Linked DNA regions of Homo sapiens. The protein of the gene in region 4 purifies or fractionates together with the protein of the main gene of each other region. This does not show direct contact. Each region holds a gene or a part of one and is shown on either strand. Other genes may lie near its edges. The genes, in order: NISCH, MAGED2, PPP5C and IRS4.

Region 1 (7,029 bases), on a different chromosome or scaffold from region 4:
CTTGGTCTTACATAGGCACAGAGCCTCTTAGTCTGTGGTTGATGTGCTTATGTTTTTTTACAGCTCGTTGCAGAGAGAAAGATTGATAAAAATCTGCTTCCGCCCAAAAAGATAATTGGGAAAAACTCAAGAAGCTTGGTGGAGAAGAGGGAGAAGGATCTGGAGGTCTACCTCCAGAAGCTCCTGGCTGCCTTCCCTGGCGTGACCCCCAGAGTACTGGCCCACTTCTTGCATTTTCACTTCTATGTAAGTTCCTCATCGGGTTTTCACCTGTGCCTGCAAACCCACAACTGCCAAACTTGAGGCAGCAAACCAGGGGAGACCTCAGCTTTGAGGTGGGCTGGGGTTTGACCCTAGGTTAGAAGATGGAGGAACGTCACCCTGGTTAGGAATGCATTGTGGCCAGAAGCATGTTAGTTGACAGATTTGCCGTAAATTAGACTAAATGTGGCCACAGAGATGCTTTCCTCCACCACAAGGCATTTTGTTTAGCAAAAATGGCCTGTGGGTGTTTAAGCTAGGTTTCCATCCAGATGGATGAGGCTGGATTAGAAATAGCTGACACCTGGGATAGACTATTGTTGAGTTGTTGGTGCATAGCCCAAAACTAATTAAGGGATTAGTCTGTGATGGTGGAATATCACCATCTTGGGGCGTGTCATCAGGGTCCGCGCTGCCAGGGTGCTAAGGTTGAGGGTGGACACCTTCCTGTGATGGGAGAGTGTGTCATAGAACAGCTCTGTACTCCGTCCTTGAAAGAGGAACAACTTTCATAGGTTGCCGGTGACAGAATGCGTTGTCAGACTTTAAGAAGGGCACTTAGGCAGTGTGAAACCACAATATTTGTGCTTTTGAGACGGAGTCTTGCTCTGTCACCTAGGCTGGAGTGCAGTGGTGCGATCTCGGCTCACTACAACCTCCGCCTCTTGGGTTCAAGCAATTCTCCTGCCTCAGCCTCCCGAGTAGCTGGGACTACAGACTTGCACCACCACACCCAGCTAATTTTTGTATTTTTAGTAGAGATGGGGTTTCACCATGTTGGCCAGACTGGTCTGGAACTCCTGACCTCAAGTGATCTGCCTGCCTCAGCCTCCCAAAGTGCTGGGATTACAGGCGTGTGCCACCGCACCTGGCCAAAACCACAATATTAAATAGCAGTTCTATTTATGAGAATTTCTTCTAAGGAAAAATCAGGCAGCCGCAAAAAGGATATATGAACAAAGGTAGTCATTCCAGGATTGTAACAAAATAGTAAGGACAACCCTAAAGTCTAGTAGAAGAGGTTAAAAAAAAAAAATCAGGCCAGGTGCAGTGGCTCATGCCTGTAATCCCAGCACTTTGAGAGGCTGAGGTGGGCAGATCACTTGAGGTCAGGAGTTCAAGACCATCCTGGCTAACATGGTGAAACCCTGTCTCTACTAAGAATACAAAAATTAGCTGGGTATGGTGGCAGATGCCTGTAATCCCAGCTATTTGGGAGGCTGAGGCAGGAGAATCGCTTGAACCCAAGAAGCAGAGGTTGCAGTAAGTCGAGATCATGTCACTGCACTCCAGCCTGGGCAACAGAGTGAGAGTAAGACTTCATCTCAAAAAAAAAAAAAAAAAAAAAAAAAATCAAAGGGTACAGCCAGGCTGAGCACAGTGGCTCATGCCTGTGATCCCAGCTCTTTGGGAAAATAAAACAAAAAAGAAATCTGCAGCTCCACCATCATTATCCCAGCAGCACACCAGTCTTCCCAGCAGACACTGTCTCAAAAAAAATGCAACTTTCTTAAGCAGTATCCAACTGTATGGCTGTACTATTTTTTTTTTTTTTTTTTTGAGACAGGGTCTCACTCCATTGCTCAGGCTGGAGGACAGTGGCCTGATCATGGGTCACTGCAACCTCAAACTCCTGGGCTCAAGGGATCTTCCTGCCTCAACTTCCCAAGTAGCTGGAACTACAGGTGCATGCCACCACACCCAGCTAATTTTAAAAATTTTTTTGTAGAGATGGGGTCTTGCAGTATTGCTCAGGTTGGCCTCAAACTCGAACTCAAGCCATCCTCCCACCTCTGCCTCTCAAAGTGCTTAGACTGTAGGTGTGAGCCACTGCACCTGGCTGACTATGGTCTCATTTTTACAAAAAACAAGTTGATATGGACATATTTGTCTAGGAAAATTCTAGAAGGTTTACGTATACCAAAATGCTAAGAGTAGTTTTCTCTGAGTGATAGATTTTCAGATAATTTATATTTACTTGTTTTCCTTTTATATGATGAAGACAGGGAAGAATCCACTCCCTTTTCAGGCTCACCTTGAAGTAACCTGTGGATTATGGTCCTAAAAGCCCAGCTGTATTTAAAATACAACTTTCTTGGCCAGGTGCAGTGGCTCACGCCTGTAATCCCAGCACTTTGGGAAGGCCCAGACAGGCAGATCACTTGAGGCCAGGAGTTCGAGACCAGCCTGGCCAACATAGCGAAACCCTGTCGCTACTAAAAATACAAAAATTAGCTGCGCGTGGTGACTCATGCCTGTAGTCCCAGCTACTCAGGAGAGAGGCATGAGAGTCGCTTGAACCTGGGAAGGGGAGGTTGCAGTGAGCCGAGGTTATGCCACTGCACTTCAGCATGGGCCACAGAGACTCTGTCTCAAAGAAAAAAACAAAAACAGAAGAAACAACTTCCTTAAACTCTTTTCAGAGTAAGACAGTTGAACCTTTCTTGGATCACTAAAGAGCCTAGAAATTTGGTGGCGAGTGCTAACCTGGGGCCACTGAGCTTGGCAGGGACAGGTGGAAAAGTAGATAGCATTCACAGATGGGACCTGTGTATATGCTTTGGATTTTATTTAGCATATACCAGCAAGTATAGGGTTAGCAACATACCCTTTCGTAAACATATTTTTATACTTTCTTATGTGAGAAAAAATTTGCATTCCTTATGCAAGTCTTTCAGATAAACTTTACTGGTTAGTATTTTAAGAAATAATGTACTTTAAAGGCCGGGCGCAGTGGCTCACGCCTGTAATCCCAGCACTTTGGGAGGCCGAGGCGGGTGGATCACGAGGTCAGGAGATCGAGACCATCCTGGCTAACACGGTGAAACCCCGTCTCTACTAAAAATACAAAAAATTAGCCAGGCATGGTGGTGGGCTCCTGTAGTCCTAGCTACTCGGGAGGCTGAGGCAGGAGAATGGCGTGAACCCGGGAGGCAGAGCTTGCAGTGAGCCAAGATCGTGTCACTGCACTCTAGCCTGGGCGACAGAGCAAGACTCCGTCACAAAAAAAAAAAAAAAAGAAATATTGTATTTTAAGAAAGCTTTGGTTAGCCATTTAGGGATGAAACCTGACATGCAGTCCTTTGACGGTATTAATTCCTTGCTTGAGACCTATGCCTTTGAGGAGAGGAGGTCTCGCTGGCTGCCTCACGTGTGCCTGGCTCTGAGGGTGGAAAGGCCTGGACTGCTCTTTTGAAACTGGTTTGCCTGAGATGTGCCTGGGGCCGGCTACATCTGGTTCTGGTTTGAGGCAGGCTCCGCTACTTGTAGAAGTTTTGACATATTTGGAATTAGTATTATCAAACAGGTCCCTAGGTTATATAAATCCTAGGATTTAAAAAAGCAATTGAACCCATCGTTGGATTAAACCCACAGTTGATCAGCCATAGCACTGTTGACATTTTGGACTGGATAATTTGTTTCTGTAAGGAGCTGTCCCATGCATTGTTTAGCAGCACCCTGGCTTCTACCCACTGGATGCCAGTAGCACTTCCCCACCCAGCTATGGCAACTAAAGATGTCTCCAGACATTGCCAAATGTCCCACTGGGGGGCAAAATTGCCCCCCACTTGAAAACCACTGGATTAGATCTTCATTTGGGGCCTAAAGATTTGTCAGCCTTTTCTCCAGGCTGGGAGCTCTCTGGGGAATGTTTCTCTTAACTTTTATACTGTCTGTATCCTCTCTGAAATTGTTCCACATGTGTTCTGCCTCTTGTGTTGCTGACATTGGATAGGGTGGACCCAGGGAACCCTATTTGGCTATGGTGTGAATTTTTTTATTTTTATTTTTTGAGACGGAGTTTCGTTCTTACTGGCCAGGCTGGAGTGCAGTGGTACGATCTCGGCTCACTGCAACCTCCACCTCCCAGGTTCAAGTGATTCTCCTGCCTCAGCCTCCCGAGTAGCTGGGATTACAGATGGCCCGCCACCACACCCAGCTAATTTTTTGTATTTTTAGTAGAGACGGGGTTTCACTATGTTGGTGAGGCTGGTCTCAAACGCTTGACCTCGTGATCCACCTGCCTCAGCCTCCCAAAGTGCTGGGATTACAGGCATGAGCCACCACGCCTGGCCATGGTGTGGATTTTTAAAAATTGAGATATAATTTACATACCATAAAATTAACTTTTTAATGTGTACAATTCAGTAGTTTTTAGTATATTCACAAAGTTGAGCGACCATCACCACTATCTAATTCCAGAACATTTCATCAGCCCAAAAAGGAACCTGTACCTGTTAGCAGGAGCTTCCCATCCCTCTGTCCCCCAGCCCCTGGCAGTCACTAATCTACTTTCTGTCCTTATGGATTTGCCTGTTCTGGACATTTCATATAAATAGAATCATACAGTGTGTGGCCTTTTGTGACTGGCTTCTTTCATTTAGCCTTATCTTTTCAAGGTCCGTTCATATTGTAGCATGAATCCATTGGTCCTTTTATGACGGAGTAATAGTGTATTATTTGGATATGCCACATTATGTTTATTTATTAGCAGTTGATGGATGTTAGGTTTGTTTCCATTTTTGGCCATTGCAAATGATGCTGCTATGAGCATTTGTATGTTAATTTTTGTGTGAACTTATGTTTTCATTTTTGTTGGATATATAGCCAAAAGTGGAACCTGAGTTATATGGTAACTATGTTTGACTTTTTGAGAAACTAACAAATTGTTCTCCACAGTTGTTGCACCATTTGACGTTTCCATCGGCAGTGTATAGGTTCTAATTTCCCCACATTCTTGCTTAACACTTCTTGTCCATTTTTTTTTAAATCTTAGTTGTTCTGGTGGGTGTGAAGTGGTATCTCATTGTGGTTTTAATTTACATTTCCCTAATGACTAATGTTATTGAACCTCTTTTTTTTTTTTTTTTTTTTTTTTTCTGAGACAGAGTCTCGCTCTGTCGCACAGGCTGGGGTGCAGGCATGTGATCCCGGCTCACTGCAACCTCTGTCTCCTGGGTTCAAGCGATTCTCGTGCCTCAGCCTCCCGAGTAGCTGGGACTACAGGCGTGCACCACCACGCCTGGCTAATTTTTGTATTTTTTTCATTAGAGACGGGGTTTCACCATGTCGGCCAGGATGGTCTCGAACTTCTGGCCTCAAGTGATTCGCCCACCTTGGCCTCCCAAAGTGCTGAGATTACAGGTGTGAGCCACCACACCTGGCCTGAGCCTCTTTTCATATGATATTTGGCCATTTGTGTATTTTCTTTGGAGAAAAGTATCCAATTCTTTGTCTTTTTAAAAATCAGATTGGGCCGGGCGCGGGTGGCTCATGCCTGTAATCCCAGCACTTTGGAAGGCTGAGGTGGGCGGATCACTTGAGGCCTGGAGTTCGAGACCAGCCTGGCCAACATGGAGAAACCCTGTCTCTACTAAAAATACAGAAATTAGCCGGGCATGGTGGTGTGTGCCTGTAATCTCAGCTCCTCGGGAGGCTGACGCACAAGAATGGCTTAAATCTGAGAGGCGAAGATTGCAATGAGTGAGACCACACCACTGCACTCCAGCCTGGGTGACAGAGTAAGACTGTCTAAAAAAACAAAAAAAACAAAAAAAACAGATTATCTTTGTTGTTGAGTTGTAAGAGTTCTTTATATATTCTGGCTACTAGACTTTTAGAAACATGCAAATACTTTTTCACATTCTGTGAGTTGTCTTTTTTTTTTTTTTTTTTTTTTTTTGAGACAGATTCTTGCTCTGTTGCCCAAGCTGGAGTATAGTGGCGTGATCTCGACTCACTGCAACCTCCACCCCTGGGGTTCAAGCGATTCTCGTGCCTCGGCCTCCCAAGTAGCTGGGACTACAGGCGTACGCAACCACGTCTGGCTGATTTTTGTATTTTTAGTAGAGATGGGGTTTTACCATGTTGGCCAGGCTGGTCTTGAACTCCTGACCTTAGGTGATACACCTGTCTCAGCCTCCCAAAGTGCCGGCATTACAGCCTGAGCCACCACATCCGGCCTGCCCAGCTAATTTTTCTATTTTTAGTAGAGACAGGGTTTTACTATGTTGGCCAGGCTGGTCTCGAACTCCTGACCTTAGGTGATCCACCTGCCTCAGCCTCCCAAATTGATGGGATAACAGGCGTAAGCCACCATGCCCGGCCATCTTTTCATTTTCTTGATGGTCTTCATTGAAGCACAAAAGATTTAGATTTTGATTAAGTTCAATTTATCAATTTCTTTGGTCACTTGTGTTTTGGTATCATACATGAGAAACCATTGCCCAATCCAAGGTCACAAAGATTTATAACAATATATTCCTGTATGGATTTTGTTTGTTTTTTGAGACAGGGTCTTGCTCTATTGCCTAGGCTGGAGTGCAGTGGCACCATCTCGGCTCACTGCAGCCTCAACCTCCCAGGCTCAAGCACTCCTCCCACCTCAACCCCCCAAGTAGCTGGGACTACAGGCATATGCCACCGTACTTGGCTAATTTTTGTACTTTTTGTGGAGATGGGGTTTCTCCATGTTGCCCAGGCTGGTCTCGAACTCCTGGGCTCAAGTGATCCACCCACCTCGGCCTCCCAAAGCGCTCGGTTTACAGGCGTGAGCCACCACACCCAGCCTGCAGTGTGGATTTTAATAACAAGGAAAGAAAGCACTACTTGTTTACCAGCCCACTTTAGGTGGGAGCGCAGGGGTTGCCGCCTGTATGAGTGAGGGGCACACTGTGGCACTGGCCTGTTGCTATGCTGCTCTTCAGATTGCTGTGTCCTGACCCTCCTGGACGCGTGGTGACAGGCCTCATCCCAGAACCCCTGGAA
Region 2 (5,800 bases), about 54 Mb from region 4:
TCCTGGAAGAGATAGGGAGAGGAAAAGGACCACTTGCTTCATCTGGTGACGTTGAGCTTCCTCTCTGTTGATGCAGGTGAAGCATCTGGATGGGGAAGAGGATGGCAGCAGTGATCAGAGTCAGGCTTCTGGAACCACAGGTGGCCGAAGGGTCTCAAAGGCCCTAATGGCCTCAATGGCCCGCAGGGCTTCAAGGGGTCCCATAGCCTTTTGGGCCCGCAGGGCATCAAGGACTCGGTTGGCTGCTTGGGCCCGGAGAGCCTTGCTCTCCCTGAGATCACCTAAAGCCCGTAGGGGCAAGGCTCGCCGTAGAGCTGCCAAGCTCCAGTCATCCCAAGAGCCTGAAGCACCACCACCTCGGGATGTGGCCCTTTTGCAAGGGAGGGTAAGAACTCTGTCGTTTTTATTCTGCCTTTTCTACTGCCTTGGCTGTCCTTTTCTTTGCCATCGTCTCAAGTTTTCTGCAAACTTGTTTTGGTCTTTCCATCTTTTTCTACTCTGCCAGGCAAATGATTTGGTGAAGTACCTTTTGGCTAAAGACCAGACGAAGATTCCCATCAAGCGCTCGGGTAAAGTCCTACCAATCCTCCCTCTGCCCTGAGCTCTGCCCTCCATTGCCCTTACACCATTGTGCTGGGGATATCCCCTGCTCTTATGCTTATGTCTCTGTCCTCCCAAAGTTCTGATTTGGCAGTGCTAGCATCTCTGTTGATAAGCACAGAACCGGGTTATGCCACCCTTGGTGTGGTTGGCAAAGAGTCTATAGCTTGGGCATCAGGGCCACCTGGCATCTCTTCAGTCAGGTGCTCACAACACTCTCCCCTTGCAGACATGCTGAAGGACATCATCAAAGAATACACTGATGTGTACCCCGAAATCATTGAACGAGCAGGCTATTCCTTGGAGAAGGTGAAGGGGCAGCCCTGGGGGATGGGCACAGTGGGGAAGCCTTGAATTGAACAAAAATGTACAAGTCCCTTCTCGGGAACCAAAGAGACCTGCTAATCCAGCTCCATCGCTATGCTGAGGGGCAGACAGTGGCCTAGGGAGGGGTGTAGATTAGCGATGGGTCACACAGCAAGTCAATGGTAAAAGTGCAGCTAGGACCCAAGACACCCAACTTAATCCTGGCTTCTGTCCGTCCATGGCAGCTCCTGCCATGTATTTGAGATTTCACCTCTCCCTTTCATTCCCCATTCTCTGTCTCCCTAGAGTCCCACTCACCACAAAGATGATGATGACAATAGTACATTTGCAGCGTGTTTACCGGGTGCCAGGCACTTAGCTATGTACTTTGTGCGTATTATCTCACTGATTTCTCACACATGCGAAACTCCTAGGTACATAGGGAGCTGCAGCATGCCCCGGAAGCTGAATTTTGTCATCTCACAAGCTGTTCTCCCCATCCACAGGTATTTGGGATTCAATTGAAGGAAATTGATAAGAATGACCACTTGTACATTCTTCTCAGCACCTTAGAGCCCACTGATGCAGGCATACTGGGAACGTAAGCTGGGAAAGGGCTGAGGTGTGGGGGGCTTCTGCTTTGGCCATGTGCTGCTACTCCTCCTTTGTCCTACTTCCCCCATCCTCTTAGAGAGTCAGGAAAGACAGGGTCTCAAAAGCCCCGTCCCAGTTCCTATGCATAGTTGGAGCCCTGCTTACAGTGGTGGCACCTGATTATGATTGACTGGAGGGTGTAGGAGCCTGGAGTGGGACATTCCTGCTGTCAGGTTTGCTGTCTCTGTAGAAGCTTCCCAGGAAAGCAGGCCTGTCGTTGCTTGCCTCTTCCTACTGGGTGCCTGGCCTGGCTTTGGCAGAGTGGTTCTCAAGGAGGGCTTCCTGGTGTGGGTGGATCAGGATGCATGAAGCGCAGGAGTGTCAGTGGGGCTGAAGGTTCTGGGACAGAAAGAAGGGACTCACATTGACTGAGTGCTTGTGTTGTACCAGGTTGGCAGCCATTCTTCCATCTTCTTGGAAACCCAGGGAAGGGAAAATATGATTTTTTCTATTTTACTGAAGAGTAGACTGAGGCTTGCAAGTCTAAGTGCCTTGCCAAGGGTGGCATAGAGCTGGAAGCAGAGACTGGGTAGAATTCTGTATCTGAGGAATCTGGGAGAGGCTAGCCTAGTGAGTTGGCTGGTGTGTCTGTTGCAGATGGCTGCTGAACATAAACCTCTCTGTCCTGTTATTTCTCTAGGACTAAGGACTCACCCAAGCTGGGTCTGCTCATGGTGCTTCTTAGCATCATCTTCATGAATGGAAATCGGTCCAGTGAGGGTGAGTGGCTGGGCTTGCAGCTGAATGGGTGGCTGTGGTCTAGATTCCATGTGTTCAATTTCTGTCCCTGTCTCCTCTTGCCTCCCCTCGCAGCTGTCATCTGGGAGGTGCTGCGCAAGTTGGGGCTGCGCCCTGGGTATGATTGGGCTCTCTCAGCGCTTGCTGTCCGTGTTGTCCTTTGGCAAGAGAGGACGGTCCTAGGATTGCATCAGTCTGGTGGTCTGGTGGAGCGGGTGGGGTGCTGGACTGGGTAGAGGGCCCAGGGTTCTGACCTGGGTGGATGATGGGTGAATGGTCCTGAACTCTCTGCTCCCTCTCTCAGTGTCTCTTGGGCTTCTATGGAGCTTCCCTCTTGTGCTGGAAACCTCTTTTCCATCTTGGAAATGCCTCTGCCCACATCTGGGAAGTGCCATAGCCTTGAGTGAATTTATTTGTTTATTTATTTTTCTTTTTCTTCTCTCAGGATACATCATTCACTCTTTGGGGACGTGAAGAAGCTCATCACTGATGAGTTTGTGAAGCAGAAGTAAGTATCTCTGTCTGGTGTTCATGTGTCCCATGCATTTGGCCTATTTCAGAACTGAGTGATAAAGCCGTGGTGCATGGATGCATGTGTCTATGTGTGTATGTATTTGCATATTTGCATGTATGCAGGTGGGATTATTCCTTGGGCGGTGATGGGAAACAGGAGCAGCACATGTTTCCTGATCTGTTACATATACCTCAACATTTGTCTTGAGACCAGTTCTGCAAGGGAGGGATTATCATTACCATCATTGTACGTATGCAGAAACTGAGGTTTAGAGAGGTGAAGTCATTTGGTCAGGGTTACACAGGTAGCAAGTAGAAGAGTTATGTTTAGAACTTGGCTCCAAAGCCTTAGTTCTTTTTATTCTGCTAACTAGAGCTTCATAGAAATTAATTTCCGTAAAGAAATGACATAGAATGGTAGCTTCAGGCAACCAGGTACCATGCTGGGGAGTTGACTTGTACATCTCATTTCATTTTCATAACTACCCTGCAGCTGTCATCCCATCCCCGTTTTACAGTTGAGGGACCTGGGGCTCCGAGAAGGGAGATCTGAGCATGGCCCACAGCTGGTATGGGCCTGGAGCCCAGTCCTCTTGAATTTCTGGCCAAAGCTCACCTATCCTTGGTCCTTGGAGGACATGCAAACACTCACACAGCCACACGCATGTGCACACAGAAACACACACAAAGGGTCAGGAATTCAGCATGTGTGAAGCATGCTGCTATTGGCTGTTCTTCCTCTGTAGTCTTTCTGGTCATTTTCTGTGGTGGACCTTTCTGGGCTTGGCCAGGCTGAGGCCAAGACACTTGCAGTGGGGTGTGCTCAGAGCAGGGGGCCCAAAGAATGGCTCCTCTGTTTACAACACACCCAACAGGAATCTGGGGTCATTGTGATGAGGGCGTCAAACTTGTGGCTTCCCTATGAACAAACGTCCCCCAACACCTCTATGTGGCTTCTGGGCAAGACCAGTGGGACAGGGCTCAATATTGGAAGAAAGACTGTAGTAATTAGTGGATGATGTTGCCATCTGGAGCCTGTCCAGTCTATGCATGGGTAGGCCATGAATGGTCTTAGAAATAAAGGCTTTGAACCTCTCTTTCCAAGGTACCTGGACTATGCCAGAGTCCCCAATAGCAATCCCCCTGAATATGAGTTCTTCTGGGGCCTGCGCTCTTACTATGAGACCAGCAAGATGAAAGTCCTCAAGTTTGCCTGCAAGGTAATTGGAGAGCTCCTTGAGCTTGGCAAGTCAAGAGCATGGGGTGCCCCTGGCTGGGGCAGGCTGTGTGCAGAGCAGCCTGCAGTTCAAATCTGAATGTTTTGGTGCTTCTGTTAATTGTCAAAACACTGTAACAGGCACTTTATCTGAATCATTTAAGCCTTACAACCTGATATGTCATTGCCCTGTTACAGATGAGAAAACCGAGGCCCAGAAAGGTTGGTAGGTGACATGTCCAAAGTCATGGGGCTAGGAAGTGTCAGAGCAGGGATGGAATATTAGGTGCATAATTACTGGTAATACTGTATTATTACTATTATCTTTTTATACTAAGCATGTAGCATAGTGCCTAGCATAAAGGTAGATGCTTAATCCTCTTATGCTCCTTCTGATGGTTATTTACATAGTAATACTGTATTATTACTATGGCTTAATCCCTCTATGCTCCTTCTGATGGTTATTTTTGTTTCAGGTACAAAAGAAGGATCCCAAGGAATGGGCAGCTCAGTACCGAGAGGCGATGGAAGCGGATTTGAAGGCTGCAGCTGAGGCTGCAGCTGAAGCCAAGGCTAGGGCCGAGATTAGAGCTCGAATGGGCATTGGGCTCGGCTCGGAGAATGCTGCCGGGCCCTGCAACTGGGACGAAGCTGATATCGGACCCTGGGCCAAAGCCCGGATCCAGGCGGGAGCAGAAGCTAAAGCCAAAGCCCAAGAGAGTGGCAGTGCCAGCACTGGTGCCAGTACCAGTACCAATAACAGTGCCAGTGCCAGTGCCAGCACCAGTGGTGGCTTCAGTGCTGGTGCCAGCCTGACCGCCACTCTCACATTTGGGCTCTTCGCTGGCCTTGGTGGAGCTGGTGCCAGCACCAGTGGCAGCTCTGGTGCCTGTGGTTTCTCCTACAAGTGAGATTTTAGGTATCTGCCTTGGTTTCAGTGGGGACATCTGGGGCTTATGGGGCTGGGATGAGGAGCTGGATGATTCTAGGAAGGCCCAAGTTGGAGAATGATGTGGAGAGTGTGCCAAGACACTGCTTTTGGCATTTTATTCCTTTCTGTTTGCTGGATGTCAATTGACCCTTTTATTTTCTCTTACTTGTGTTTTCAGATATTGTTAATCCTGCCAGTCTTTCTCTTCAAGCCAGGGTGCATCCTCAGAAACCTACTCAACACAGCACTCTAGGCAGCCACTATCAATCAATTGAAGTTGACACTCTGCATTAAATCTATTTGCCATTTCTGAGTTTATTGCTTTTTTTGGCGGGCTGTCACATTTTGGTATCACATTTAAAAATCAGTGAGTTGGGAAAGTTTCCACCTCAGTCTGTGTTTAGTTTGAGGTGATATTGTTGGATTCCCAGGAGCGAGATTAACACACCTTTCTGGGATAGATTGGGCCTCACGTCTAATTGTTGGATTCCCAGGAGCGAGATTAACACACCTTTCTGGGATAGATTGGGCATCACGTCTAGCCTTCAGGGTGGTGGGATTTTAGTGGGGTGGAGTTCAAGAGATTGTAGTTACAGAGGACACACTTTGAAGGAGAGGCTTGAGGTCGGCAAGTCTAGAGCAGAAAGTGTAAGTAGAGGAGACTGGACATCAAATATAGAATCCCTTTTTGAGAAATTTGAATGAGGAGAGAGAGGGGTACAGAGCTAAATGGAGATACAGGAACAAGGGAGCATTTTCTTGGGGAAGGAGAGAGAGACTTGAGTAGGGAGGAGTCAACGGAGAGGGAGAAGTTGAATGTTGACTTTTGCAGCCCAGTCCTG
Region 3 (7,028 bases), on a different chromosome or scaffold from region 4:
CAGAGGGGTGTTCCTAAAACACAAACCTGACCCTGTCCTTTCCCTACTCAGAACCTCCCAGGGCTCCCCAGAGCCCCACCCCCCACCGCCACCCCACCCCAGAAAGCCCTGGCTCCTTCCTACAGCCCTGCGCAATCTACTCCCTGCAAACTCATCATAACCTCCTCCAGCCTCCTACGCTGTGGCCCCACTTATGGCCTCCATGCCTGGCTCTGCTCACCTTTGGGCCTTTGCCACCTGTTTTTGTTTTTTTTTTCCCTGCCTGGAGTACCGTCCACCCTCTCTCCAGGCAGCCACTCTCACTTCCTCCCTGAAACACTTCTTGAATCTATTTCTGTCCCTCCAGCCTGGCTGGCGATCACCACCCCTCCTCACCTGTCCACTAATCTAGACTCCTTCCTGTCTTACCCTGGAGTCCAGTCTCTGCATGGCAGCCAGGGATCTTTTCTGAACACTAACTGAACCACAGCACCCCGCTCTTGAAACTTCCCATGGCATCGACCACCCCCAGGATGACACCCATATTCCCCAATCTGACTTCCAAGGTTCTACCTCTGGCCTCATCTCTCACTGGTCCTACCTCCCTCTCACGGCTCCCACCGGATCGAGCTTCTCCACACTTTGCTTCTGCTCCCGTTGGAGGCCAAGTCTCTTCCAGGGCTCCAGACCCTTCCCACCTCCGCCTTCTCCAGGGTTTTGCTGCTGCAAGTCCCCCCTCTCCTGTGCAGAATCAATTCTCCATCTCTATTGGACTCTACTCTCTTCCATCCTTACAAAAAATCCATCTTTCCCTGACACTGCATCTTCTCTCTTTTTTTTTTTCTTGAGACGGAGTCTGTTGCCCAGGCTGGAATGCAGTGGTGTGATCTTGGCTCACTGCAGCCTCTGCCTCCAAGGATCAAGCAATTCTCCTGCCTCAGCCTCCCAAGTAGCTGGGACTACAGGTGTGTGCCACCACACCCAACTAATTTTTTCAGCAGAGACGTCGTTTCACCATGTTGGCCAGGTTGGTCTCGAACTCCTGTGCACGTTCTCGTCTTACCACCCTCCCCCATTTCTCCACTCCCCTTCAGAACCAATACTCCTAACACTTAACATTTGCTGTCTCCACTTCCTCCCCTCCCATTCACTCTTCAGCACCTCCTGGCTGCATCACCCCCATCACTCCCCAATAACTGCTCCTGTCAACATCACTACCAGCATCCATGGAGCCAAAGCCAATGGCCAGTGCTTGCCTTGGCAGCATCGGACTAAAGGCACCAGCTCCTTGTTCTAGAAGCGCTCCCTTCTCTCAGCCTTCCCGACACCTTTCCTGGCTTCCTTTCCACCTCACTAAGTGCTCCTCCTTAGCCTCACCCTCTTCCATTTGGGTTCTGTCCTAAGTCCCCCCTCTAGACCCTCTTACTAGATGATCTCATCCATTCCCAACCATAGTTTGATCACACCCAAATTCTTCTCCAGTCCAGACTGGCCCATTTACTTAATGTGTCTTCTTGTAGGGCTGGGCGTGGTGGCTCATGCCTGTAATCCCAGCACTTTGAGAGGCCGAGATGGGCGGATCACCTGCGGTCAGAGGTTCGACACCAGCCTGGCCAACATGGCGAAACCCCATCTCTACTAAAAGTACAAAAATTATCTGGGCATGGTGGTGTGCGTCTATAATCCCAGCTACTCGGGAGGCTGAGGCAGGAGAATCGCTTGAACCAGGGAGGCGGAGGTTGCAGTGAGCCGAGATTGCGCCATTGCACTCTAGCCTGGGCAAAAAGAGCAAAACTCCCGTCTCAAAAAAAAAAAAAAAAAAAAAATTCCAAACTGGTCTTTGTAATGACTCACGGAGACCCTGCATGATCTGGCCTCTGTCCTAATCTCATCTTGTTATTGGTCTCCCCCTAAGTAGCCAAAGCCCCAGCCATGCCAGTACCCTTTCATTCCCCATCCCAGGGCCTTTGCACAGGCTGCTTTACCTCCCTGGAACACTCCTCTCCAGTTCTCCCTCTGTGAGTTTCAGCTTAAACGCCTCCTGCTCAGTAAGGCCTTCCCCCACTACCCTATCTAAAGTAGCCTCCAACCCTTATTCTCTACTTCATCACACTGCTGGTTTGCTTTCAAAGCACTCATCACAATTTAAGTATTTTACTTATTTACATGGTTTTTTTTTGTTTTTTTTTTTTTCATGTCTGGTTCACCTGCAAAATTACAAGCTAAGGACAGGGCCACATCTGTCTCATTCACTGCTATATCCCCAAAGTCAAGCACAGTCCTTGGCACATAACAGGTACTCAATAAATATTTGTTGAATTAATGAATGAATGGGTGCCCCACACTTGACTCTCAATATTCTAAGTGATACTATTCTTAAGGATCCCCACCCTTACTCCCAAGGCCCCCACCATCACATTCCTTTTCCTCGGGTCAGCCCAAATCTCCTACTTCCTTGTTCCCCCCATCTAATGATCCATTCCCCACCCCCACGATTGCCTTCTCTATTGGGGCTGTGCCCCCTCTACCCCCCACTTGGCGGCACCCACCCCAGGACTCCCCATTTGGTAGCGCCATCAATCACTCCCCCACCACATGTCACTGCCTGGTAGCGCCCTCTACAGGCCTCACGTTTGGTAGCGCCCTCATTCCAGTCCCCCTCTCGCCCCACAATTGGTGGCGCCCTCCTCAGTCTCTCCACTGAGTAGCACCCGCTCCGCACGCCACTCCTAGGTATCACTCTCCGAAGCCCCCTATGTCGCTCCTTGGCAGCGCCATCCTGGGCCTCCCCACGCCCGGTCACTTGGTAGTGTCTGCCCCGCGCCCAGGCTGCAGCTCCGCGTTGCTATGGTTCCGCGCGGGCCCGGCACCCCTCAGCCTGGGCCACTGTCCACCCTCCCTGCCAGGCGGGCGCACCTTTGAAGTAGTCATTGGCCTGAGTCTTGAGCTCCTCTGCCCGCTTCAGAGCTCCATCAGCCGGGGGTTCGTCCCGGGGGGGCTCAGCACACTCAGTCCTCTCGCCCTCCGCCATCGCCATGCCGCAAAGCGACCCCTACCCTGGCAACGGCCGCCAGCGGCACCCGGCCGAACCGTCGCGAAGGAGCGCCGGGTGGCCGCCGCCGCTGCCGCACAAGTGTCGTAAAGCGCGGGCCCTGAAGGCGCCCTTCACGCGCCTGCGCAGGTCCCTTTCGCCACAGAGCGCGCGGAGGACAAGGTGACCAGAGGTTCCCCAGACGGTACCCCTGGTAGAGAGAGCCAATAGGGAATGAGAGAAGGGGCGCGCGGGGAAACAGACCTGGTGTGGCCTCTCCTCCCAAAGTTACCGTGTTCCAAGGCTGTAAAAAGTTTCTCGGTTCTGAAAGTGGGATTTCCCCGCTGTCCTCTAGGGTTGGGGGGTGGGTTGTGAATGTCGCTGGCGGGTGTGGCTGTTTTGCAAGGCAGCGCCATGCCCTACGCGGAGCCGGACCCGGGCGTCGAGCCCTATTGTCGACTACCTGTGTGACCTTGAACAAATCTTCCCTTCCTCTCTAGGGTCTCAGTTACCCATCTCTGAAAAATTAGTGGTTTCTCAAGCCAAAAAGGGTCCAACCTTGAGGGTCAGTGTTTGAGTTTTTAACTGAAGGCACTCTGGATTTCAAGTCCTGAGCAAGGCTTAGAAGTGTGTTGCACCATCTCCTTTCTTCCTGTGTTCAGCTTCCCAAATCCTGAATCTTCAAATAAACTCTCCTGTTTGTGTTTTTACAGATTCTCTTGTCTGAGATCACAGCATTGATTGCATGCACTCTGCCTCCCTCCAGTTTACCCTTCACATTTTTTTTTTTTTTTTTTTTTTTTTGAGAGGGAGTCTCCCTCTGTCGCCCAGGCTGGAGTGCAGTGGCGCCATCTAGGCTCACTGCAACCTCCGCCTCCCGGTTTAAGCGATTCTTCTGCCTCAGCCTCCCAAGTAGCTGGGATTACAGGCGCCCGCCACCATGCCCGGCTAATTTTTGTATTTTAGTAGAAACGGGTTTCACCACGTTGGCCAGGCTGGCCTCGAACTGCCGACCTCAAGCTATCCGCCCGCCTCGGCCTCCCAAAGTGCTGGGATTACAGGCGTGAGCCACCGTGCCCGGCCGAGGGATCTTTCTAAGACATGATAAAACCATGGCACACTCTCGCTCCCAGGCTTCCATGGCCCCAGCACCCTTAGGAGAAAACCCAAACTCCTGATTAGGAGACCCTGAATAGTCTTAACCTCAGGCTGAATAGTCTAATATCCAGATTCCACCCCTTTGCCAATCCCCACCCGCCGTACACGCTTCCAGTCTGTCCTTTCTAAGCCCTCATGTAGCACTAAGTCCTGTAAGGCTCTGGATCCCCTCCTGGAAGCACACTCCTAAACCTATCTATCCCACTCCCAAACCTCTTGTTAGTCCAACCCCATCTCTCCTACTGGCCCCCAGCACAACCAACAATCACCCTAAAGGGCAGATATTAGTATCATCTCCATTTTACAGATAAAGACACAGACTTGCAGAGGTGTTTGACGAAGGTCACAACAACATAAGAAGGTGACAGAGCCAGGATCAGGAATCCCATCTAATTCCTATGTCCTTCATTGCCACTCTACTGCCTCTGTAGGTGCCAGAGCCCATCTTGGTGGGTTAGTAAATTTTTCTTTTGTTTGTTCGTATTGTTTGTTTTGGGGTTGGGGGAAAAGGAGCTGCCATAGTGGATTTGAATTCTGGTTTCGAGTCCAGCGGAATCCTTCCTGACACTGTGACCTTGGGCAAGTGATCACCCTCTTCTAAGCCTCAGTTTCAACCTCTGTAAAGTGGGGATAATAATTATCCCCATCATACAGGATTAGAGGAGAGTTCGACAACATGAGTACAGCATTTGTCAGGGAGCCTGACACAGAGTAGTACTTTTATATTCACTCCATCACAAATACTCAAAGTGGGCTGGGTATGGTAGCTCATGCCTGTAATCGAAGCACTTTGGGAGGCCAAAGCAGGCAGATCACTTGAGGTCAGAAGTTCAAGACCAGCCTGGCCAACATGGCAAAACCCCGTCACTACCAGAAATACAAAAATTTAGCTGGGCATGATGGTGCGCACCTATAGTCCCAGTTATTAGGGAGGTTGAGGCAGGAGAATTGCTTGAACCTAGGAGGCGGAGGCTGCAGTGAGCCGAGATCGCGCCACTGCACGACAGCCTGGGCTACAGAGTGAGACTCTGTCTCAAAAAACAAATAAAACAAAACAAATATTCAGAGTTGGGCAGAGTGCCTAGTGCTGTGATGGGAGGGGGCTTCCAAGGGGAGCTTTTAGGGGCACTTTACCCAATTGGAGCAGGCAGGGAAGGCTTCCTGGAGTAGCTGTTACCTAAACCAAGATGTGAAATATGAGTAGGAGGTAACCAAGTGAGGGGAGAGGGGAAGGGAGAGAGGCATTTCAGGCAGAAGAATAGGAAGTGCAAAGGCTTGAGAGTGTTTTTCTTCCCTTGAAGAGATTCCTATGTGCAACCCTGTATGGGGGGTTATGAGAGTGACGTACATGACAACAGACACACCCACCTGCACATGAGTCCATGGACACACACTCTTGCACACACATGCTCACTTAACTATGGGCAATCATGTCACACACACATTGGTACCCAGAATTATAGCATCAAGCAGTCCCACACATGTACACAGAATCACATCATACAGACATACATAGGCAAAAAAAAAAAAAAAAAATCACAGCACCTTCCACACTCAGAAACACAGAAACCCAAAATAACCAGAAACACACATAAGGCAGAATCACTTCACCCAGATACTAATATGCACTTGTAGAAGGAATCACAACCCCACCCACCTGCTGCAACACAGGTTCACAGAATGTGACAAAGACCCATACACATACACAGAATGACACTGTGCACACACTCGTGTGCATGCACACACACACACACATACAGATACACAGAATCAGAAAGTAACATGGGGCTGGTGCAGTGGCTCAAGCCTATAATCCTAGAACTTTGGGAGGCTGAGGCAGGAGGATCGCTTAAACCCAGGAGTTTGAGACCAGCCTGGGCAACATGGTAAGGCTCTGTCTCTACAAAAAAATGAAAATAATTAGCTGGGCCTCGTGTCATGCACCTGTAGTCCCAGCTACCGGGAAGGGTGAGATGGGAGGATTGCTTGAGCCCAGGAGGCTGCAGTGAGCCGTGATCACACCACTGCACTCCAGCTTGGGTGAGATAGTGAGACCCTGTCTCGAAAGAAAGAAAGGGCCTGGCATGGTGGCTCATGCCTGCAATCCCAGCACTTTGGGAGGCCGAGGCGGGCAGATTACCTGAGTTCAGGAGTTCGAGACCAGCCTGACCAATGTGGTGAAACCCCATCTCTATTAAAAACACAAAAATTAGCTGGGTGTGGTGGCACATGCCTGAAATCCCAGCTACTTGGGAGACGGAGGCAGGAGAATCGCTTGAACCTGGGTAGTGGAGGTTGCAGTGAGCAGAGATTGTGCCACTGCACTCCAGCCTGGGCAACAGAGTGAGACTCCAAGAAAAAAAAAAAAAGAAAAGAAAGAGAGAGAGCGGAAGGAAGGAAGGAAGGAAGGAAGGAAGGAAGGAAGGAAGGAAGGAAAAAAAAAAAGACACTCAGCCACCAGTGCACCCACACTCCCAGAGGAGATCCAAAAGATGAGTCAACACGCAGAGCTCTGGTGCCTACCAAGGTGAGGTCTTTATGGTGTATAGAGATTGGTGAGTTTCAGAGCCAGTGTGGCCAGTCTAGTCCCTCCCCTTTCCCTAGCCCAGCACAATTCCCTCCATTGAGGGCCCACATCACCTCCAGAGGGAGGAGGGAGGGGTCAGACCCCCCCATAGCACCAATCTGGATAGGCCACTCTCTGACAAAACAGAGCGAGCAGTGCCTTCCACAAACGGGGTAAATGGGGCTAAGAAGGGGGGAGGCCTTTTCCTGTGGGAGACCAAGAGTAGCACCATCTGTAGAAAGAAAGCTGGGGGGTAAGGGAGGCACATAGATGGTGGCAGACAGCTGAGGGGTC
Region 4 (7,029 bases):
TAAAACTTTAAAAAGCAAGAGTAAAAAATCACATTTGCTGGTCAGACTTTCAAGGGCCCCATGGATACACATGTGAGCAATTTTCAAGATTAATTGTGAGATGGAAACTTCACTGTTATTCTAAGTTTCAAGTCTATAAGTAGGAAATTATTAATCATAGGAGAAAAATTATATAAATTGTCAAAACTAGCTAAAGTGACTACAATATATAGGGAATTAGATATTCGGTAAATCCAGAAGGTGTGGCTGGCATCAAACATATTGTGATCAATCCAACCATGAAAATAGCTTTAAACACCGGCCCAGCTGCTTCTGTGCCAAGTGACAGTAGGGCAGGCAGCACAGCCTTGGATCTGTACAACAAGGATCCCTACAAGGAAGGTTGCCTCTGCAAGCTAAGTGCAAGAAGGCTGTGTACTGGGAGTGATCAACATCTGGCGAAGCCCTCTATGGGCCCTGCAGGACTCCCACAGTGGCCCTCACCTTTTCAGCCAGAGAGAGACCAGGAAAGGGCATGTTTGCCTGAATTCAAGGGCACAAGTTTGGCAAAGGGCACATGAGGGTAAGACTCACAGAACACAACCAATGCAACCCTAACCAATAAGAAAGAGGTATCAGGAAGCTAAGAGAAAATAGCAGTAACTTTCTCATTTCACTTAATAAGTATTTAAGTACATGTTTTCCATTCTAAAAGAAATTAATTATTCAGCCAGAAGTTGAAAGGTACCCTCTAAAAATGCATATCTAAAACAGTATATAATTTACACTAGAAACATCTTTAAACATTCCTATTTCTCAAGTGTTGAGTCTATTTTTCCAAAATAAGGTGGAAATGTGAGACCTGTAGCTACATTACCAATAATCAATGCAGAATTGCTGGAGAATATATTTTAAGTTCATATGGCAAGCACATTTTTCTTGGCAATTTTATCAATAGCTTTAAAATCAGCAATCCAATGATTGTGGCAAAAACTCAGTGCTTTGTGATGTATTTATTTCATTATTATAAAAAGCAGTGTCTTAAATTTCTCATTTCTCATTCAAGACCAAGCAACGTTTTCTAGTAAATGATCCTCACTATCTAAGAGTCTGGCAGCACCTCTTAGAGAAAATATACTGAAAGTTTTAATTAAGCATTTTACAAAAGCTATTTTCCAATACTGCCAATAAAACGTCTGGGCTATTTTTATATACTCTTAAAGCCTTAAAAAAGGTGCTAAATCAAAATGAACTTAATTGTAAACAGGGATTTCTATGTCCCAAGGAGAGAGTTTGATTTTCAAGGCTTCTAAAATCTACTTGCCTGACTGCCAAAAGCAAGTTCACTTTTTAAACAAATGAAGAACGTCTATTGCTACACTGCTTATTCTTCCACCTGTCTTACTTTATCCTGTTTTGCCTACTGTGCTGATTTAGATCAGAATACCAAATTTTATAATGAAGGAAGAAATTAAATGAAAAGACTTTTTGCTATAACTCCCAAATGTCAATGAATTATTAGGAAAATCAAAGAAATCTAACTTCAGTTAAAGAAATGACCATTAATGGAAATTTACTGAATGCACCCTCAATTCACTTTCTTTCCTTTCAATGTTTCTGTGGGATCTAAATAGATACATACACTATTTGTGTTTGGGCAGTGAAGATTAACCAACTCCTCCCTATATCAGATTTAAAACATTCAATTCCAGCACAAGTCAAATTCTTTTATTCTAAGAGCCAGGGCAAACAGTTCAATGTAATAAAATTACCCAGGTCCTGGAAGATAGTCCACAGTTATAATGCTCTGAATGAATTACTTACAACAAAATTTGCTACTATCAAGTGAAAGCAAACTTGTAATTTTTTCCTAATCATTAACCATGTAATAATCTGTCACCAGTGGGAAAATAACAGACTAAACACCTGATTAAAGGGAGGTGTCATGTGTTGGGTGGAGTGCTGGACTTGAAATCAGATGTATGAGTTAGATTTTCAGCTCTGCCACTTACCTTTTTGATCTTGGGAAAATTCTCAACATGGGCTTCATTTCCAGTACTTACCATCCATCAGTAAAATAATGAATGTGAATGTGCTTTGCAAACTATAAGGCAATCTGCAACTGGAAAGCATTTCCTCAATCAACAATTTGACAATTTAACAATAGACCCTTTTAAATCACATAAACTATTCCTTAGTTCTCCCTACACTCGTCAGCCACATCTATTCCCACAGGAATTATTTTTTTGTCACTCTGAGAAGCCTAAGTTTGTTCCCAAAACAGGGGATTAGGGAGAGAAAAAGAAAGTAAGAGATCTCGTTCGAATTTTTATACATGTGTGACATTCTGGTGTGCTTAATTAAAGTTCTGGTCCTTGTTTAAGGTAAGTATTTTGCTAGTAGTTGAAATTTTTACCCTGAAAACATCACTCTTAAAATAGAATGAATGCAAATGAATAATGATTGTGAACAACTTTAGTTAACTTTAATTAAGTGAAGTCCTCTTTAATTGTTAGAGGACAAATACCTCATTAGTCCAAACACTGTCCAATTTTGAGGTGTTGAATATTACCTAAAATAAATGATCCGTCAATGGTAGCTGGGAAATTTCTGCTATATGGAAATTTTTATAATAATTAACTTCAATGGAATAAAAACAATGTGCTCTTAGTGCCTATAACTGATAGCAACAAGTTTGGCAGTAGTACACTCAAAAGAAGCATGATTCCTTCATGGTGATAACAGTGTCTAACACTGAAAAATTAATTACTAAAGTTTTTTTTTTTTGCTTTTTAATACCAAGTGCCATCATAACATTACTAATTTGGCTGACCGATTCTCTCACCCCTCCTAGAGCTGCCCTTTTATATCCTCCCATCTCTTGAATAAAAAAACCAGGAAAATGTTCACCTCAAGTCATTTTGAACTATGAATTGTACATCAGGTAAGGTAGAAAAAGAAGCAAATAGTCATACATAGGTTAACAGTCAAACTAAACTGCATAAGAAACAACATTCTTCTCCTAAATGCTAATGCCTATAACCTATGTGTTTAAAATGTGAAGACTTCATCTTTAATAAATGATTAAAAATTATTTCATTTATTAATACAGTCATGTCTAAGGTTATACTTCTGGGTGTTTCTTTCTAATCGACTTGAGTAAATTCCTTTACTGTACTTACTTATACGCAATGTGACTGTAGGTAAATGGAATTACATATTAATTTTGTGTTACATGAGAACAGCTGTCTCACAGATTTATAATCTCACTTCACTTAAATGGTAATCTATAAACATGCCAACTGAACAATAATGTAAAGTATTTTAAATGCAAGTAAAGACTAACTGAAAAGTGAGATTTTCAGATGGAGAATCTTAATTTAGGTTTGTTTTTCTAAATGTAATAATAACAGTAGCAACAATAACAATGGCAATAACTGTAAAATAATTCATGTATAGTACTTACTATATGCCAGGCACTGTTCTAAGCACCTGCCATCAATTAAAATGACTTTTTGAAATACATAACTTCTAATAAAGATGGTATTTGTTCCTCTGTCAAAGCATTATGTTTTTGTTTCCTAACGTGATTGTTTTTGTTTTAATGTTAGATAGGAAAATAGAGATCAGAAATGAGTGAAAATTATTCTACAGCTTTACAATAAAAAAGGATCAGAATCATTCAGCTTGTTCTTAACACTTCACAGACAACATTCTACCATACAATTTACATTAAAATGCTAACCAAAGTCATTTCCTACAATGGGTTGTTTCACCACCATCAACACCACCACCACCACCACCACCACCCCCACCCCCGCACCCCCCCGCCGGCAATCCCCACCATTCCTTTCATGTATTTCAGCAAATTATGTGCAGGAATCACCCTCAAGATCAATTATTTTGCAAGAAACTGAATCAGTTTAAACTGCCGAAATTTCACTTCAGTATTAATCCAATGACACTAAAAATATCTTACATTTGTAAAGTGCTTTAACATTCCAAAGTGCTTCCACGTTGATTCTCTTATTTCAACCTAAGCGCCTGCCTCCCTGTGAGATAGAGCTTCCTTGCTAAAGTCACTCAATAAAGCTAGGAATTTCCTCAATAAACAATGCATTTACAGAATGTTAAATCTCCAAAATAGCTACAAAGTCATAAATCAGGAATTTATGCTAAAATAATGATCATTGTGTCTAGGTATTCCTTGGGAAGTCAGAATTTATTCAAGGAACAGTAAGATTTCACTATTTAAATCTTAAACTTCTTAAAATAAACCTCTATGAAAACTGGTCCTTTTGAAAGTACTACAGGGACACAGGCAACTGTGTATCATCTACATCAAAATTATAAATGGTGTCTTCAATAGTTAGACTCAAACAATAGATTGAGATCAATTTTCAGGTATATTCTACAGAATAAAGTAGATCTACTCTTGAAAATCTTATTATGGATTAAAGACTTGGAAATGAAATTATATATTTTAAACGTATGATTATGGTAGCAGTGGTGATCATGTGTGTTTGTGTGTGTGTGTATGTGTGTGTGTTGGGGAGGGAACTCACAGTTTAAAAGAGGTCTGAATTGAATCCTTTGGCAAGCCAAAGCATCCTTTTGTTGTTTTAATGATCACTCTTTAATGTGTCCACGCTGCAAATGTGAGTTTGTGTATGGCAAGTTTTCTATAGCAGGGAGAAAAAGGGGATGTGGGGGGGCTACACCTGCATTAAATAGGGAGCTTGTTAGGTGACTGTTGTGATCAGTGCCCGACTTGTTCTGCCTGATCAAGCACAGTGGGCAGAGATCCAATCACAAAAGCATTCCACAAAGCAAGCAAAGCAAAAATCTTCACTAAACTGACTACTGGAATGAAAACTGCTGGGGTCCATCCCTTCCCTTCACTGGGAAAGAAGCATATTCTACTTAAGAGGCAAGGTAGTTGAGACTATGGAGACATCATCCTCTGCAATCATCTCTTGAAAATGTTTCAAGACACACTGATGACAACATTCCACAATGTTGTACACAGTAGAATTACTCTAAGTCTTGTTTCCAAGTCTGACAGCTCCTACTCTTCCTTACTTCTTCCTTTGGAAAAGTAGCCCTTTAAAAACTTCCACCATTCCAGGGTAAGCTGCCCCTGGAGTCAGGTCTTCCTCCAGCCTTATCTTGCTTTCCTTGATTTCCCATAAGATATATGAATTAAATGTTTTAACTGCTTTTTAAACCTTTGAAATAATATTCATATCCATTCTCAAGTTGTCACCACACCCTCTTTTAGAAGGGTGGGGGGTTAAAAGAAGAAAATGAGGCACAGCAAATGTGACTTGCCTGTCATTACTAGTGACAGAGAAAAGGAACACTCAAGGTTTCTGGAATTTATCCTGTGTAAAAACAAAAAGAAAATCAACACACAAACACATTCCAGAGCCAAATACTGTCTTCTTTTAATCACCTCCTGTTTTGGATTATTTATGTTTTGTTCCCCCCAGACATTCACGTTAACAATTGAGATTTAACTTTCTTGGTAAATCACAGCAAACTAGCACAACAACGACTGCTCTTTAAAAAGTAACTTTCAGAGGAGAAAATTATCCTCCCTAAACATAAATAGTTGATTATTACTGCTTAATAGTCTGTGCTCTTATTAAATTCCTACACTTAAATATGGGCATTTGCAGAAAAGCAGCTTTTAATTGTTGATTTGAAAATTAGTTGGTGGAACCCAATTTACGATATCCTGCTTTACATTATCATTAAATGATGGGGAAGGATGTTTAAAAGTATCCTTATGCTTTTTATGTCTGCGTTTTAACTACTCCTAAAAAAGTAGAACCAGTGTTTAAATGATAATCAGTTCTGTCCAGATAAAGAAATTGATTAGATAAAAACAAATTTTTGCAAAGATCAAAAAGGCATTTGTGAATAATTAAAACTGAATTCTATACTCCATGTCGAATAGCACCAGTTAATGAAATAGTATCCCTAACACTGTAGACTGTAGCGCATCGAATCATTAGACAATGACCATTCACTTTAGGGAAATTAATTCTAAAATTACCGACCTCTTTTGGGAGAGTCGAACTGATTATCACGTCTGGCAAAATCCATTCTCACGTGAGTGTCGTCGTCGTTGTCAGAATCTTCTCTCTCCGGGGGTCTTGGCACCCGGCGACTGCGAGGTGGTGGTTCCGGAGCGGCAGCTGCAGCGGCAGCCCCGCCAGCCTGGTTATCACCTCTGGCAAGGTTTGCAGATGGGTTGTGGGCTCCAGGGTTCGAGCCACCGGCAACGTCTTGGGCTCCCCTTACTGCTTCGGCATCAGCAGCATTAGCAACAGGTTGAAACCAGCGGGCAGAGGCGGAGTCAAATCCAGCAGCTGCGGCTGCTGCGCCGATGCCCGGGGCTGCGGCGAGCGCGGAGGCCGCAGCTACAACTTGGCTGAGGGCTAAAGTCGGCTCTGCAGCCGAAGCGACAGCCGGGGCTGAGGATGGGGAAAGGTCTCTCTCGAGGCTGTCTGTTGGAAAAGCAGAGACAGCGGCTCTGGCTGCTGCAAAGAAACTTTGAGAACGGCTTTGTGGGCGTCTTCTCTCCTGCTCTTCTTCCTGCAGCAGCCTAGCTACAGGTGGTGGTTCAGAACATCGGCTGGGGGAGAGAGAAATATCCATACAGCACTCAGAAAATGGGTCGACCACATAGATTCGACCTGTTTCAGCATCATAGCGAATGGCACTGTCAGCAAGAGCCATGGCTGGTGTCATTGCTGAGTTGAAAATTACTTCAATGTAGTCACCCTCTTCCTCAATAGCATTGCTACCTGTAGCACTGAGGGGAAGGGGAGGAAGTGGCCACCTAGCACTGTCCAGAGATAAGGGGTTGGCACGTGGTATAGCTCTTAAAAGATCTGAGAGGTCGTTTGCTGGATTTGGAAATGGCACTCCAAACTCAACATTCACATAATTAGAAAAGGCTGACTGTCTGGGTTCAGCAATTATGCCCCACGAATCTGGTAGTCCTTGAGTAGAGGGAGCTGGTGTATTGCTCTCTCTTTT

Evidence for each region.
Region 1: the proteins of IRS4 (region 4) and NISCH purify together in Homo sapiens (affinity purification with mass spectrometry; 2 studies listed by BioGRID and IntAct, with this or other methods). This does not show direct contact.
Region 2: the proteins of IRS4 (region 4) and MAGED2 purify together in Homo sapiens (affinity purification with mass spectrometry; 2 studies listed by BioGRID and IntAct, with this or other methods). This does not show direct contact.
Region 3: the proteins of IRS4 (region 4) and PPP5C purify together in Homo sapiens (affinity purification with mass spectrometry; 2 studies listed by BioGRID and IntAct, with this or other methods). This does not show direct contact.

Annotation. Positions count from the first base shown.
Region 1 is NC_000003.12:52,458,599-52,465,627, forward strand, and holds part of NISCH (nischarin), read left to right. Parts: intron 1-63; coding exon 64-246; intron 247-7,029. UniProt on the Homo sapiens protein: Acts either as the functional imidazoline-1 receptor (I1R) candidate or as a membrane-associated mediator of the I1R signaling.
Region 2 is NC_000023.11:54,810,745-54,816,544, forward strand, and holds the end of MAGED2 (melanoma-associated antigen D2), read left to right. Parts: intron 1-76; coding exon 77-385; intron 386-505; coding exon 506-569; intron 570-829; coding exon 830-909; intron 910-1,412; coding exon 1,413-1,507; intron 1,508-2,200; coding exon 2,201-2,280; intron 2,281-2,373; coding exon 2,374-2,416; intron 2,417-2,743; coding exon 2,744-2,806; intron 2,807-3,625; exon of another isoform or gene 3,626-3,756; intron 3,757-3,916; coding exon 3,917-4,031; intron 4,032-4,503; coding exon 4,504-4,938; 3' UTR 4,939-4,946; intron 4,947-5,136; 3' UTR 5,137-5,271; downstream 5,272-5,800. UniProt on the Homo sapiens protein: Regulates the expression, localization to the plasma membrane and function of the sodium chloride cotransporters SLC12A1 and SLC12A3, two key components of salt reabsorption in the distal renal tubule.
Region 3 is NC_000019.10:46,343,085-46,350,112, reverse strand, and holds the start of PPP5C (serine/threonine-protein phosphatase 5), read right to left. Parts: upstream 3,027-7,028; 5' UTR 3,017-3,026; coding exon 2,896-3,016; intron 1-2,895. UniProt on the Homo sapiens protein: Serine/threonine-protein phosphatase that dephosphorylates a myriad of proteins involved in different signaling pathways including the kinases CSNK1E, ASK1/MAP3K5, PRKDC and RAF1, the nuclear receptors NR3C1, PPARG, ESR1 and ESR2, SMAD proteins and TAU/MAPT.
Region 4 is NC_000023.11:108,726,535-108,733,563, forward strand, and holds part of IRS4 (insulin receptor substrate 4), read right to left. Parts: coding exon 6,045-7,029; coding exon of another isoform or gene 6,037-6,044; exon of another isoform or gene 5,963-6,036; intron 5,364-5,962; coding exon of another isoform or gene 5,359-5,363; exon of another isoform or gene 1-5,358. UniProt on the Homo sapiens protein: Acts as an interface between multiple growth factor receptors possessing tyrosine kinase activity, such as insulin receptor, IGF1R and FGFR1, and a complex network of intracellular signaling molecules containing SH2 domains.